Regions from separate parts of the Homo sapiens genome. Here region 2 is linked to region 1. The links come from fine-mapping of genetic effects on gene expression. A gene starts in region 1. The other region holds a variant in brackets. All regions are shown on one strand. Distances are from middle to middle.

Region 1 (8,343 bases):
TTGTTGAGGCCCTCACCAGAAGCAGATGCCAGTACCATGCTTCTTGTACAGCCTGCAGAACCATGAGCCACAGTAAACTTCTTTTCTTTATAAATTACCCAGCCTCTGGGGTTCCTTTATATCAATGCAAATGGACTAATACAAACCCTCATGGATGACTTTGAGGGGCTCAAAACTTAAGTGAAGGAAATCACTGAAGATGTAATAAAAATAGCAGGAGAACTAGAATTAGAAGTAGAGTCTGAAGATGTGACTGAATTGCTGCAATCTCATAATAAAACTTCAATGAATGAGAAGTTGCTTCTTATGGAAGAGCAAAGAAAGTGATATACTGAGATGGGAACTACTGCTGGTGAAAATGCTATGAACATTGTTGAAATGATGACAAAGGATTTCGAATATTACATAAACGTATTTGATAAAGCAGTGGCAGGGTTTGACATAGTTCACTTCAGTTTTGAAGGTTCTGTGGATAAAGGGCTACCAAACACACACTGCATGCCTGTATCAAAATGTCTCCTGTACCTCATAAATACTAAATACCTTCTATGTGCCCATAAATTTGTTTAAATGCTATCAAAGAGCATGACATGCTACAGAGAAATCTTTCATGAAAAGAAGAATCAATGGATGAGGCAAACATCATTGTTGTCTTATTTTAAGACATTACCACAGCTACCCCACCTTCAGCAACAACCACCCTGATCAGTCAACAGCCATCAACATTGAGGCAAGACTCTCCACCAGCAAAAAGATTACAACTCACTGATGGCTCAAATGATTATTAGCATTTGTTAGCAATAAAGTATTTTTAAATTAAGACATGTATATGTTTTAGACATAATGCTATTGCACACTTAATAGGCCACAGTATAGTGTAAACATAACTATTATATACACTAGGAAACAAAAAAATGTGTATGACTCACTTTTATTGTGATATTTGGTGATGTGAAACTGAGCTCACAATATCTCCGTAGTATGCCTGCATTTTCTTTTTCTACAATTTTGACTACTTTAGATACTTCATATGAGTGGAATCATACACTATTTTACTTTTTGTAACTGACTTATTTCACTTACGACAGTGTCCTTCAAGTTCATCCACACTGTAGCATGTGACAGGATTTTCTTCCTTTTTAAATATAAAATTTTACTGTATGCATATATATTCCAAATTTTCTTTACTTATTCATCTGTTCATGAACATTTGGGTTGCTTCCACCTCTTGGCTATTGTGAATAATGTTGCATTGAACATGAATGTGCAAATATCTCTCTGAAATCCTACTTTGAATTATTTTGGTTAAATACTGAGAAGTGATAATATTATAACTAACTTTGAAATTGAGGGCTTAATTTGCTGTGGGCATACATTACAGGCTATTTGTCATGAATACAACTTGGCAAACTCAGGCCTTTTAAATCCTGACCTGGATTCTTTGAATGAACTTTAAACTTGTCTCTTAAGCTTTTGCTTGTTCAATCCTCTACCCGAAGATAGCCCCAGATGACTCTTCCCAAGTGTCATTCTCTACTCAAAGGCCTTTAATGATTCTCCATTATCTGCTCTACAGCCCTTCTCAAGGCCCCAGTTGGCTCTCCCATGAGTCTGTCATGATCCAAAAAGCTGGCCCACTCACTATTTGCTGAGTACACTTTGTTCTTTCTCTTCTTTGGAGCTTTGTTTACGCCTGAAAATGTTCTCTGCTCTTCATTTCTGCTCTAAAACCCTACCTATTTCAATACTATCTATTGTCATAATTCTAATTTCCTCCTTCCATCTCATCCACCCAAACCATTGTACTGCTTTGGGTATTTCCTTATTGTTTGTCCTTAATTATGTTGCCTTTACCTATCCTTGCACCTCCAACTGGATTTTAACCCCTTCAAGAAGAGGGATTATATTCTCTTTTTTAAATCATGTGAAGCTCCAAGCACAATGCTTTGCAGGTTGTGTGCGATGCAGTACAGGGGAGCCCCCAAATTAATTGGAGCTTAGCTCGCAAAGGTTCTTGGCTTTGCCCAGGAAAGAATTTAAGGGTGAGCCAGTGGTAGGGTTGAAAAGTACAGCTTTGTTGAAGTGGCAGTGTTACAGCTCTGATGGTGTTACAGCTCTGTGACTGTTCCTGCAGAGCAAGGCTACCCCACAGGCAGAAAGTAACAGCTCAGGGTAGTTTTGCAGTCATATTTGTACCTACTTTAATTACTTGTAGATCAAGGGGTAGTTTATGCAGAATTTTTAGGGAAAGGGTAGTAACTTCTGGGTCATGGGGTCATTGCCATGGAAGGGAGTGGTAACTCCTGGGTTTTGCCACGGCAGTGGTAAATTGACATGGCACACTGGTGAGCATCTCTTATGGAAAGCTGCCTCCGCCCCATCCCTGTTTTAGCTAGTCTTCAATTTGGTCCAGTGTCTAAGTCCCAGCTCCTACTTCGTGGGCACTCAACAATGCCATGTTGAGGCCAGGCATGGTGGCTCACACCTGTAATCCCAGCACTTTGGGAGGCTGAGGCAGGCAGATCACTTGAGGTCAGGAGTTCGAGACCAGCCTGGCCAACATGGAGAAATGCCATCTCTACTAAAAATACAAAAATTAGCCGGGCTAGGTGGTGTGCACCTGTAATCTTAGCTACTCAGGAAGCTGAGGAAGGAGAATCGCTTGAACCCAGGAGATGGAGGTTTCAGTGAGCCGAGATTGTGCCACTGCATTCCAGCCTGGGCATCAGAGGGAGACTCTGTCTCAAAAAACAAACAAACAAACAAACAAAACAACAACAACAACAAAAGCAATGCCATGTTGGAAAGACCAAAATACAAAGTAGTTAAAGTACAAGCTGCAGATGAATGGGAATTCAAATCTCAGCTAGATCACTCAGTGGTTATGGAACTTGGGCAAGGGAGTTAACTTCTTTGACTCAAGTTCCTTTTCTGGAGGCATGGCATTCGTTATATGTACTACATAATGTTATAGAAAAGTTAAAGAAAAATGTATGTAGAATTGACATGTATTAAATATTCAGTCACGGTAGTGGCAAATATTTATTTCCTAGATTTTTCCTTCTGGAATACCTTGAATACCTTCTACCTAGACATTTAACCTCTTCATTTCTAGCCATAGTTACAATCGCAGTAGATTAGCCAGGGAGGCCAAAGTTTTAGAATAAGGATGGCCATTTACAGATGAGTATGTATTCATACTGTATTCATACTAGAATCTGTATTTATTTTGAAATTACTGTAGTACTTGTGAATTAATAAGTTCATAAATATTTACTGAGTACCCATTATATATCAGAATGCTGTTCTAGATACTAAGAATACAGCAGTGAACAAGATAGCGTCCCTGCCCTCCACTAATTTACATTCTAATGTGTAAAAATACACCACAGATGTGCAAGAAATATGATGAAAAGCTCATCTATAAAATGATACCAAACCCCCTAACATCCCAAACTCAATTTTTTGGCCTTATAACTTAGCTGTTGTGGCAAGCTTGTTTTTTGCAGAGTCCAATAATAGTTACCCAGATTTTTTTTTGTTTCCCCGAGACGGAGTTTCGCTCTTGTTGCCCAGGCTTTGAGTGCAGTGGCGGGATCTCGGTTCACCACAACCTCCGCCTCCCGGGTTCAACCATTCTCCTGCCTTAGCCTCCCGAGTAGCTGGGATTACTGGCATGCACCACCACGCCCGGCTAATTTTGTATTTTTAGTAGAGACGGGGTTTTTTCATGTTGGTCAGGCTGGTCCCCCAACTCTCGACCTCAGGTGATCCGCCCTCCTCGGCCTCCCAAAGTGCTTGGATTACAGGCGTGAGCCACCGCGTCTGGCCAGTTACCCAGATTTTTAAAAGCTGGGACTTTAAGAAGCAATGTGAAGACAAGCTACACACACACCACACCACACACACACACACACACACACACACACACACAGACACACACACTTAATTCTTTTTTCTTCTAGAAAAATTGGGATCAATCAGACCTATAAGTCATTGTGTACAACAGGTAGATCTGAGCTTTATTTCTATTTAAATGACCTTAAGAAGTGTAGTTGCCTGGGAGTGAAAGTTGTTCAATGGTGGCATTTCAGCAGGAGCTCCCAGAATATTGAAGCTCTTCTCTTTGCAGCAACTGAGGTCTAAGTCCTACCGACGTTAGAGGGATAGACGAATTGACCTTTCCAGGTCCTCTGCTCGCCACCAGCCTACGGAGCGGCGCCACCCCCTCCTGGCGAGACCGGGCGCGGAAGACGCGGAGCGGAGGCCCTCCCTCAGGAGGGGCGCGGGCGTGGAGGGCGTGGGCAGGGGGCGGGGCGAGCCCCGCAGACTGAGTGCTCCGGGGAGCTGTCAGTGTCAGGCTCTGGGAGAGAGGAAGTGATCGCTCCCGGAGGAGCGCGAGCCGAGCGGCCGGCGCAGCGTGAGACAGCACATCCTGCCCGCGCCGGCCCCGCCACCTTCGGGAGCCGCCTGCACCAACGCTGCCGCCGCCCAGGAGCCGCCGCCGGCTCGGGGAGCCCAGTTCCGCCGCTGCCGAGCGCGTCCAGGTAAACTGGAGCGGGATGTCGCCGCTCCCCGGACGGCCGCCTCCGCACCTCTCCCCAACCCTCCCCACCCCGGTGTCGTCTGCGCTGGGAACCAGGCTGGAGCCGAGGCCCCTGCAGCCGCAGCCGGACCCTTGTCCTGGCCCCCTGCCCAGGCTCCTGCGTGCTCCGCTGAGCCCGAAGGCGGCCAAAGCCCCCCAGTGACACCCCCCTCTCGGCAGAGCCGAGAGACTAGGGCAGAGAAGGAAGGGTCGTGGTGTCACCACCTGGTCGCCCACCTTGTGGGCTGGGAAGGGCGTCCCAGTGCGCCCCGCCTCGGTCTTCCCCGGGGGAGCAGTGGGCGAGCGGCGCTGAAATCTGCACCCCTCTGGGCCACCGGCTGACTGCCCCTGGAGGAGGGGGAAAGCTGCAGAGGGAGGGGAAAGGATGCTGTTTGATTACATTTCGAGCTGTCTGCAAAGCTCTTAGATGCTGTCACTACCCTGCAAGTCGGAGGGAGCGAATTCACTTCCAGCAGGGCATTAATTAAACACTTCAAAGCGAGAAGATGCCAGTTTCTCTCTGCTGCGAAAAAGTGTGGCTGGGGGATGTTGTTTTGGTAAACACCTTCACGGCCGCCTGGCTCTCCTTCCCCCGCTCCCATTCGGAATCGCTCTGGCCTTATAAATCCGTGCGTCGTCATCATAAGGGCAGTGATCCTGGCAGCGCTGATGGGAACTGAGTGTGCGGGAGTCTCATGACTTGTACCTTGGCTAATAAGATTAAACAGAAGCCCAGGATCAGGACAGGAAATTACATAGGAGATCAGAGACTCAACAACATGCAGAAGATGGAATATATTCGCTATTCTGGCCTCTACTAATCCTAGGTAAGGGGCAGGAACAAGTAGCCAGCCATTTTCTTGCTTGGAATGCCTTTCAAGTGGGCATTGTAGACTTATTGTAGTTCAGAGTTGTGAAGAATTGCTTCCAAATATTCCAGATTAGCAAAAAGTATAGCTAACAGTAAGGCATAGGCAACTGCAGGTGACAACCCAACGCCTGATGTTAACACAGACATGGGTAACCAGTCTGTGTACATACTTTAATTGTGGAAATTATAGAGATATACGTTGATCAGTGTTAGTAAATTTGAAAAGGGAATATTCAGTGCAATTTGCAAGCTGAGGGTACTGGTGAGAATGTAATACTACCTCTAATTATTTAAAATGCCAAGTTTGTTCAAAAAGGTTTGGTGTGGAAAAAGGGGTCCTAACTCAGCTCTTTTGATCATATTTCTCAATAAAATAAAATCTGAAACACCTGCCACTGAGTTACCACATGTTCTCTTCATAAGAACTAACTCTCGAATATTTGTTTAGGTCTGAGGATCCAGTGCTCCAAGACCCATTCCTCTTAAAACCTCTAGCACCATCCTTGGGAAGTTTTTAGAATACAGTTGGGGGTCGAATGCAGGCTTTTCCAGCCTGTCAAGCTCTTAGCCCTGTTTCTGGCCCACAGCATCTCAGCATTTTACTTTGTCTTCCTTGTCTCAGGCCTCAGATACAAATGCACTTGCTTCCTCCTTCTTTGGACCTCTGAGATGCTGCAGCCGCTGGTGCACAGTCCCCTGGAGGAGGAGGGGCTGGCTTGCAGTCCTTCCCCACCCCCAGCCTTTCCTCCCTCTTTGCTATTGAAAACATGCATGATTGTTTTACTGTTAAAGCTTTAGGTAAATCACCAGTAGGGATATGAGCAGAGAAAATAAACTCGACCCGCAGGAAAAGGGGCAGAGTTCTTAAAGTAGTGGTCCATGGTCTTCAGTTTCTGACTAACTTCGAAGAGAGTAAGAAGTCACTTGGCATTTCAGTCACCATGTTTTATATCTCAGAGAAGGCTCTAGGGTCTTTCTTCCCAATCCCTCTGCTTCCAAAAATACTCCTTCCCGAGTCTACGTTTAATAAATGAGCCTTGCCTTTGATGACAGTGCTGAGTCAAGGATCCAGCCTGGGTGCTGCTCTGTCCATAAAAACAGCGATGTAGACCAGTCTTGTAAAATGCATGCCAAATCTGAAATCTAGGTACCCCTCTTAGTACAGACAGTGTGCACCGGCTTCATCCTGTTACCGTTTTCTCCAGTTTCTTTGTTGTTTAACGTAGCATCAAATGAAAAGGTCACATGCATCTGTTTCAAAATCTGTTTCAAACAAATATATTCCTTCATTACTTTATTCTCCCTACACTTGAAACAAAGATTGATAACAGTAGCTAAAATATATTGAGCACTTTACCAGGCATTGCATTTTAAAATACTTTCACAGGTGTTAACTTATTTAAACATCACAAAAATCTTATGAGGCAGATATTGTTTGTAATCCTGTTTTACAGATGAGGAAACTAAGACACAAAGGTGTCAAGTAACTTTTGCTCAGCTACTAAGTTGAGCAAGGCAGCATTTGAATCAAGGCCTGACTCCAGGCCAGGAGTTTTAACCTCTCTCTTCCGTACTATGAAACAATTACACTGGTTAATTTTCATATATTGAATACCAAGCTCTTCTCTTATCTCATTTTAATTCTTATATTAATCCTATGAAGTAGACATTATTATCCATATTTTCCAAATAATTAAATGAGTTAAATGACATACTCAACATCATTTAATAAATGGCAGAGGTAGGATTCAAATGAGATCTCTCCAAAGACTCTAAAACTAGGACCCATCCATTTTGGCTATTGTGCTGTGTGAGAGACAAAAAAGCGAGTGTATGTCTGTATCTTTCAGGTTTGCTCTCCAATTTCAGTGTGATCCATTGTTATTTTCTTAAAGCCACAAGTATAGCCGCACTTTTTGCCAGTTGATTGGTAACTGTGAATAATATATGCACACTCAAAGTAGACCCATGGCCCCTTAAAATAAATTATGGCATTGTTTTTGTCTCCTTAATGAAAGTAGCTGTTATACTTTGTGGATCTCAAATGCTGTGTAAATAGTTGCTACCTTAATCAGGGATCTCTTTTACTAGAAATCTTTGTGGCTTCTGCATCCCCTAGAGCATGTGAGAACATATATTCTCCTGGGAACTGTGCTGGAACTAGGAACTTCTAGAGTTGACTTTTTTGTTTTGAGAGTTAACTCAAATTAATTCAACTCTCATTTTTCTTCTTTGCAATGTATAAACCCTTGACGAGGTCCATGTAAAAGTTATTCCTCTTGACTGGGCACAGTAGCTTACACCTGTAATCTCAGCACTTTGGGAAGCCAAGGCAGACCAATCACTTGAGGCCAGGAGTTAGAGACCAGGCTGGAGGCTCGTGCCTGTAATCCCAGGCTACTCGGGAGGCTGAGACAGGACAATCACTTGAGCCCAGGAGGCAGAGGTTGCAGTGAGACGAGATTGCACCACTGCAGTCCAGCCTGGGCGACAGAGCAAGGCCCTGTCTTAAAAAAGAAAAAAATTATTCCTCTTGACAGAGACTTTTCATCAATATCCTGGACTTGTGTTCCTTGATTCCTCTCTGAGTGAGGCCTGGCCCCAGAATCTCAGAGTGAAGTTTCCATCGTAACATAGATACCTCTGCCTAGGTGCTAATCCTCATGAGCTCACATATTCATAAAACATCCTTGATTCTTTGTTGGAGGAACCTTCTTAAACAAAAACCCATAGATACTGTAAAAGGGAGGCATACGAATGGTTTTCAGATGGTCATTGAACCCACTAAAATTGAGGCAAATTTTCATGCATTTGTGCATAAATGTAGTTTTCTAGGGAAAAAATGGGGATATTGCTAACTAAAAATACAGGAAGAATCACTGGTTTA
Region 2 (8,343 bases), 160 kb after region 1:
TAAGAGCTTTGTTCACAAGTGACATTTGTGCTTAAACTTGGATCAAACCTTCCTTGTTTCTTTCTTATGCCAGTTTTATTATGTGGAGTTGAATTACATTTTACTGGATTTAAAATAATGCTTTAAACGTTATTTTGTCTTCTTTAGTTTTTCTTTTTATCATTTAAATATCTGTAGCCTCAAACTCATAAAAGGAGAGTACAAACTTCTAATAAAGTTCCTTAATATTTACCCTGATGCATAAATTAAAGAAATCCAAATTTAAACAAGGAGCCCTGTTGCATATATTTAGTTGTCAAATATAATGCCCAGGGTTGGCAAGGGTGTGCATTAAGCAGCTCCAGAGGAGAGTGCTACAGGAGTTAAAAATCATCTTCATCTTGCTGAAAGGCAGCTTGGTTTTACTGATCATCATAAGATTTCAAACAATGTACATACTGAGCAATTCAATTTCTGGGAATTGTTCCTGCAGGAAGTAATTAAGAATGACAGGAAAGATTTAACTAGACTGTAAGAATGCTCATTGCAGTATTCTTTATAATATCACAAAGTAAAAAATCTAGAAATACTATTACTGGTAGACTAGCTATATAAATTAAGATGCATTTATACTGTGAAGTACTATTTAGCCATTTTAAATGACAGCTTATAATATATTTTAAGTTAAAAAAAGTTACAAAATAAATACATTACAAAAATGTATGTGAATCTGATTTGATACTGATAAAATGATATCTATTTTATACACATGCATAGAAAAGACTGAAATGGTTACAAAAAATGATTAATGTTGGTTATTTCTGAATGTTAGAATTATAAGGGTTTTGTTTTTTATTTTTAGATGTATTTATTTTTTCCCTTTGAGAAGGTACAGTAACTTTGGCTTCATGGACAGTTTTCCGAAACTGTTTTCAAAGACATTAAAATTTTCCTCATCTCTCTATACGTGGTTAGATGAATAAAAGGTACATAAACTTAAAGTAAGGATAAGACACAAGTGAGGGATGTGAAGGAACCACACTGTGATTCAGACTACCTCCTCTACCTGTCTATTAACTGTCTTAATAGCTACACTGTTGACCTTGTTCTTTTATAATCATAATGATCCACCTGCCCTCTCCTGAGACTCTTTTTCAACATGGACAGCACTTGTCGTCCCTCCCATATCATATTGTGTTTAATTTAATCTTTAGCAGATAGATACAGAGTGTGTGTTCAAACTAGTTTTTTCATTTGTTAAGGTGCTTTGGAATTGTAATCCAAATTTCGAACAAATTATATACTCAAAATATATGACAATACAATGAAATTTTTGTAAAAATATTTTAACAAACTGACCTCATGAGCAAAAACTGCTGTAGTTTTTAATAATTCTGTTTACAGATGATTTTATTCCAGTATGTGAATCTTCCCAAGCAAAGAGGGGAAAAAAAGTGTTCATTTTTAAAAATGACATCATGGAAGTCCTTAAAGCATCTAATACAAGTTAATGAACTCTGCAACCATTTATACTAGCCCTAATATATTATATATACGCACCTGGAAAGTCATCCAACAGATACTTACCTGAACTTCAAAAAGTTGTCAGTCTAGTAGGGGAGGTGACCGTCCATACAATGAGAGGCAGAACATAACAATAGTCAGAAGACAGGCAAATCTAAGGGCTACGGGAGCGTCACAAGGGAAAGGGAAGTGTTAGGGATGGGGTGATAGTAGAGGTGGCATTTGTGTTAGGACTTAAGGCCATTATTGGATTAACTGAGAATATTGAATATGAATAGTGGATTAGTTAAAAATACTATATAGATGTTAAATTTATTGAGCTTGATAACTGTTCTATGGGTTATGGAAGAATGTATCCCTTTAATTAGGAGATACACGAAGAAGTATGGGGATGGGGGAGAGAGTGAGAGGATGGCTGAGCAAATGATAACATGAAACATTAACAATAGTTGAGTGTGGGGGTAAAGGGCATACAGACACTCTTCATACTATTTTTATTTTTGCAATCTAACCGTTAGTTTGAAATCATTTCCCAGTAAAAAGTCTTTTAAAATCCAGCTCTCAGATAAGAGGCAACAGAGGATAGCTGTCCTTATTCACTGCCTTCTGAAGACCAGAACTGATGCCAGCTGCTTTTTTATTTCCCCCAAAATGTGGTTCACGCTAGTTATTTGTTGACTTCACCAAACCACCGCATAATTTCACACAACCCAGGATGGAGGGTAGCAGCGTCTGTTTCACAGAACCCAAGGCCTGAAATAGCAGGAGGGCTGTGTTGTGGTGTGGCGTGGAAGCCTGCGCCCTGCCAGCCACACTTGGCCTGGTTTCAGCAGTTTGCTATCAGACCCTACATTATGGAAGAACAGCCAGGGCAAATAAAATGGAGAGTCAGACTTACAAAACAAAGCTTCCTGCCTCCCAACTAGTACTGCCTTGCTTCCTCCTTCAGGATAGCACCCATTTCTGTAGATATTTCCTGGTAGAAATGTTGTGACTTCCCTGACATTGCTGTTAAATTGTAGTTCCTGCAAAAGGAGGCCAAGTCCTCATTTCTGGTGTCCAGATAACCTCCTCCAGGTATTTTCTCAATATGGTTCAGACCTAAGTTACTTTATTTCCTGTGCCTTTTAAAGACACCTCTATTCAAAAAACACATTTTCCAGAGTGCTGTAAGTTTTAAAGACCCCAAGTGACAATGTGCCTGAAGAGGAAATCAGCCCCCTGTTAGTGCAAGGAGCTGAGTGGCTGAAGAAGCCCAGACTGTAGTGGGCTTGGGAACTGGCTAGAGCCTGTTCTCTGCACGGGCTCCCACTGCCACACAGGCTGCAGGGGGAGTATCAGTGCCCCACCCCACTCCCCAGATTCCAAGGGCGCACTTAATGTTCACCACGTGCAGTGTTTGTCACCTGGGCTTCAGTGTTAGTGCCGCCAGGTTCCAGCAGTGGCTGTTCTCTGTTGCCTTTTACCTGAGAGCTGGCTTTTAAAAGACTTTTTACTGGGAAATGATTTCAACTGGCTAATACGGCCATGGGCAGTTAGTGAGCTTCACTAAGCCTCAGTTTTGGCATCCACCAAATGGAGATAATAATAGTCTCCAGCTCCTAGAGTTGTGAGGATGAAATGCAACAGACAATGCATATAAATTATGAAGCATAAGTGGTGGTTCTTGCTGTTTTCTTGTGCTTGTTAAGAGTATTACTATGTGAGCCTGGCTTCTTTCCTTTCTCCCTCCCTTCCGTCCCCAAACTTACCGGTATTACACAGTTGATACAACAGTGTTCAAGATACTCCTCGTTTGAAGATAAGAGTCCTGCAACTGGGTACGAGTAAAGTGTCCTTTGGAAAACTGTGATGTACTCAACA[A/G]ATGCATAAAGATGAGCATGTTTTAATTGTCCAGGCCCACACAATGTGGATGATTTTCATATTCTATCACTAGTATTTTCTGCTCTTCCATCCTGCAATGCCCTAACCTCCCAGGGTGCCCATGCCTAGAATATCCCTTTCCTTCACCCTGTATTTATTGAACTCAGTCCTCAAAGGCTGGCTGAGTGTCACCTACTGTGATCTTTGCTCACAATGAGAGCAGAAGAAATTGCTCCTGGAACTCCCTTTACCTAACACTGTAATATGTAATACTTTTTATGTTTTATGTAACCTTATTACATAAAATGATATGGTTTTGCTTTTTATACTCATCTCTCCTACTTGAATATAAGTTTCTGGAGGCTAAAGCTTGTCATATTTTTCCTAGTTCCTTCATAGAGCCTGGAAAGTATGCTGCTCATTAACAATTGTGCTGGGGTTGTTTGTTGTTGCTTGTAAATTTTTTGAAAGCGTAAAAGCATGCAGGAAAGTACTCAAATCAGGAGTGTACAACTTGATATTTTTGACATGAACATACCATGAAACCAGTCTTCAGATCAAGATTCAGAATATAAGGAGAAACCCAGAAGTCCATATTCAGTCTCTCCTCCCCCAAGGGTAACCACTACATCATAGATTAGTTATGCCCCTTATTAAATTTTCTACAAATGTCATCATATGGTACATATGCATTCATGGCTAACATCTTTCATTTCACATTATGTTTCAGAAGCATTCATGCTGTTGTATGTAGATGTGGTTCATTCACTACCATGACTATGTAGTATTTCACTGTGTGACTATGCCATTATTTATTTATCCATTCTGCTGCTGATAGACCTTGGGAAGTAACTGTTTTGTGAACTGAAATGAATACTAACATCTGGCTCTTAAGAAATATTTCCCAAGGAAAGGGTGACAGCACAGAAGGTTAGATTCACGAATGCTAGAGAAGTAGCCCTGATTTCTCACTTTTTCAAAGAGCATTGACAGATGGCTCCCCATATCAAGAGCCAGCACAATCTTTCAGAATCAGGACAGCCCATTTTCCCAGACCATGTGATATTTATTCTATTCTAGCCTGGCTGGTTGCTAAATTGGTAAAGATCAGAGAGCTTTTGGGCACAGTGGTGTTCTTAGAATTCTGTTTTGCTATTAAATATTGGCCTACAAATATATAGCTAAATGTGTTTTACTAATGATTGGGGTGGCATTAATTGTAATTACTTGTCAATCTAACTTGTTGCTGGTGTCTTAATTTCCAGCATATCTGAGAGGTTTTTAAAGGATTTCACTAGCAGTTTGGTAAGTCATTTGTCAATAAATGATGAAAAGGTTGGGCTATTTATATTTCAATGTTACCATTTTAATGGGCAACTGTCTATGTACTGTCCACCGCAGAAATGCTTTTTCCTCCCTTTTCTTGAGGAAAGTGTCTAAGGTGGAGGGAGGTCTGGTTGCTATGGATATCTGAAATTTTATGTTTACAATTTAAGAGGTAAGCTGAAACCTCACTATTTGGTCTCCACCTGAGTGGCATTCACATTTAGAAATTACAAGATTGTTATTGGCTATCTGGAGCTTGAGGATGTGGCTGAGTCCTGGCAGTTAATTAAAACTAGGCTGGTTTTCAATATCAGAATTATTCAGCCTGTTTTGGTAGGATGTCCGTAAAGTCCTCACTACCTTGCAATGTGTTTTTGATGTAAAAAAAATATTTAAAAAGGAAACATAACAGGGTAGCTTGTCCTCATTTACTGGAGAGGTTGGTTGCTCCATAAGCTTTTCAGAGTGGGATTCTGCCCCCATTGTTTCTTGTCTGTTAGCTCTGTAGGTTCTAGGCTACAGTATTTCAGTGTTCACAGGACAGCTAATTGGAGAACAAAGCCCTGGCATTTTCCTGGAAGGAAGATTGCTTCATGTGATGCTTATTGGGAAGATCGTAGAAAAACTGGTTAATTCAGAGTATTGCTGCATTAAATGTCAGGTGAAATATTTTCTAATTATTCTTTTATTATCAGTTTAATCTTTTAAATATGTTTTTAAGTATAGAAGTAACTCATGAATACTTTTTTTTTTTTTGGAGACAGAGTCTCACTTTGTAGCCCAGGCTGGAGTGCAGTGGCGCAATCTCGGCTCACTGCAACTTCCATTCCACCTCCCAGTTCAAGCAATTCTGGTGTCTCAGCCGCCTGAGTAGCTGGAATTACAGGTTTGCACCACCACACCCAGCTAACTTTTGCATTTTTTGTAGAGATGGGGTTTCGCCATGTTGGCCAGGCTGGTCTCAAACTCCTGGCCTCAAGTGATCCACCCACTCGGCCTCTCAAAGTGCTGGGATTACAGGCGTGAGCCACTGCGCCCGGCCTATGACTACATTTTTAACTTAAAAGAATCTAATAATACTGATAAAGAGAAAATTCCACTTGACTTATTTTCATCAGTTCTAGTTTGTTCCACATAGATATTCCTTTCATCAGACTAGTTTGTATTGTTCTAGTTCAGAGGTCAGCAAGTTCTAACCCAAAGGCCAATCCAGCTCCCTACCTGTTTTTGTAAATAAAGTTTTGTTGAAACACAGCCACGCCCATTTATTTACATATTGTCCCTGGCTGCTGTCACACTGCAACAGCTCAGCTGTGTAGCCGCAATACAGACCACATGGCCCCCAAAGCCTGAAATGTTTACTGACTAGCGCTTTACAGAAAAATTTTGTTGATCTCTGTTCTAGATCATTTTCGTTTGCATTTTTTATATTTAAATTAATATACAGCTAAATGTTATTTTACTATTGATTGTGGTGGCGTTAATCATAATGACTTGTCAGTCTAACTTGCTGCCAGCGTCTTAATTTCCAACATGTCTGAAAGGTTTTAAAGGATTTCACAATATGCAATTTTATATTTACTATTTATATATGTATAATTGTGTCTATTTTTACATAAATGGTATTATATAGTACATATTGCTCAATACCTATTTTTCCATTTAACAGAATACCTTCAAGATTTGCTGTTCATGTCAAAATATGTTGCTCTCTACCTCATTCTGTTTAGCTGTCACATATTGTCCATAGCAGGATAAAGTTAAACTTATTTTATCATCTCCTATGGGTGACTATGTAGCTTATATTCAGCTTTTACTGTTGAAAGGAATGCAGCAATAAAAACTGGCAAAAGTCTCTATTTCTCCTACCAGTACTGGAAAATCACATACACACTATGGCGGCACATTTTCACAACAGAGAAATTAATGTGATAATCATGGCTACTATAAAGAAAAAAGGGGTTAATTAACTTGGTCAGGGACTTCAAACATGACAGTGGGCATTATTCAGAATGGACATTTTATGCTTCTAATTGCTGGGCAGGGACTACTCTAGGGAAAGGCCTGAGCAGAATGGAAAAATCTGTCTACCTAAAGGACATATGAAGGAATTAGAAGTGTCCTTGGGTAGGGTATTTGTCAGCTTGACCCCGCCTGAGAAAATGTCAAGATCACACTGCATATATTAGAAACATGAAACCATTGAATATGTCAAGCTTCTAGGAACTTCCACAATTATCAAGTTGAACCCTTTCCATTTTTAGATGAGGACACCAAGCCTCACAAATGTTAAGTGATTTGTTCAAGATCATAGTAGTAGGTTTCGATCATGGCTTAGCTTGTCCACTGACACTAGAACCAGGGGCTAAAAGTTGAAATACCTGATTTTTACAACTCAGAAGGCATAAGACTTACAGTAGCACATCATTTTAAAGTTTTCTAGTTTGTCAGACTATCTTTATTTATTTTTTAATTTTTTTTTTTTTTTTGAGATGACAATGTCTCACTCTATTGCCCAGACTTGAGTACAGTGGCACAATCATAGCTCATTTCAGCCTTGAATTCCTGGGCTCAAGTGATCCTCCTGCCTCAGCTTCCTGAGTGTCTGGGCCTGCAGGCTTGTGTCATCACACTTGGCTAATTTTTAAATGTTTTAGTAGAGATGGGGGTCTCACCATGTTGCCCAGGCTGGTCTCAAAATCCTGTCCTCAAGCAATCCTCCCACCTTGGCCTCCCGAAGTGCTGGGATTACAGATGTGAGCCACAGCAGCCAGCACAGAGAATCTTTATTTATACTTTTTAAAAACATAATCTCTAAATATGAAAATTCATATTAGAGTAGCTTCATTTGTGATAAAATATCAGCTGTCATTGTCTCAGCAACCACAGCAAAGAAGAGTCCAAATGAATCCACAGCCGGTTTGAGATTCTCATTCCTAACAATGCCAGTCTGTTTGTTCATGTGTATTAAAGTATCATTAGAAAGGAAGCAGCCTCAGATGAAGCCATTTTAGCCATTGATGTGTCTCAAAAGGGTTAATCAGATACAGAAACTTAACAATTTCTAGAATTGTAAGGAAATAATTTTGTTTCTTGTAAAGCAAGAGTAATAATTGATGCTCACGTGAATTGACATTTTTGGTAGCTTAGAAATGGCACCAAATGTGGGTTTTGGCAAAACCTATATTTTCATGAAGAAATGGCTTTTAAACATGTTGGCATTTCTGTTCATGATAGACACACCATTTGAATCCAAACCCTTGCAGAGGTGACATGACACTGCACTGAAGGCAGTGACACATTTTTTTTAAAAAAAACTTCACATAAAATTATGTAAACACTTAAAGTGAATGAGACACCTGCCTTTGAGACACCCGCCTTTCAGTCGCCCTTGTTATGCCACCCACAGCCTTTTCTCCTTGGCTATTCTTAGCAGGATTTATTTTGAGCCTAGTGGTGGTAAAAGATGTAACATAAAATGAAACCCGACACTTAGAGCTCCCTATTATTAATTCATAAATTCAGTCTGGGATCACCCATTGGTGCCAATGAAAGATTAGCCTAGAGAACAATCACGGTTCACATTCTATACAGTAGTATAGAAGAAAGTTTGCCACTGATAATTGTATTTATGTAAGTGCTAGCAATAAT

Direction of the effects. Positions count from the first base shown, and alleles are read on the strand shown. Sizes are in standard deviations (SD) of each study's normalised expression.
With allele A in place of G in region 2, the expression in esophagus mucosa of the gene that starts at base 4,328 in region 1 is lower (large effect, 0.95 SD a copy in GTEx).

What was found.
Region 2: its variant is fine-mapped to the expression of DYNC1I1 in esophagus mucosa (GTEx, PIP above 0.99).

The regions. Positions count from the first base shown.
Region 1 is chr7:95,768,227-95,776,569 of GRCh38, forward strand. It overlaps DYNC1I1 (dynein cytoplasmic 1 intermediate chain 1), which reads left to right and starts at 4,328. Exons shown (of 17, transcript NM_001135556.2): 1 at 4,328-4,547.
Region 2 is chr7:95,925,715-95,934,057 of GRCh38, forward strand. The region is part of intron 6 of DYNC1I1 (dynein cytoplasmic 1 intermediate chain 1); the gene reads left to right. Among named protein-coding and RNA genes, the nearest start is that of DYNC1I1, 160 kb to the left of the region's middle. The variant A/G (reference allele first, on the strand shown) is at 3,367.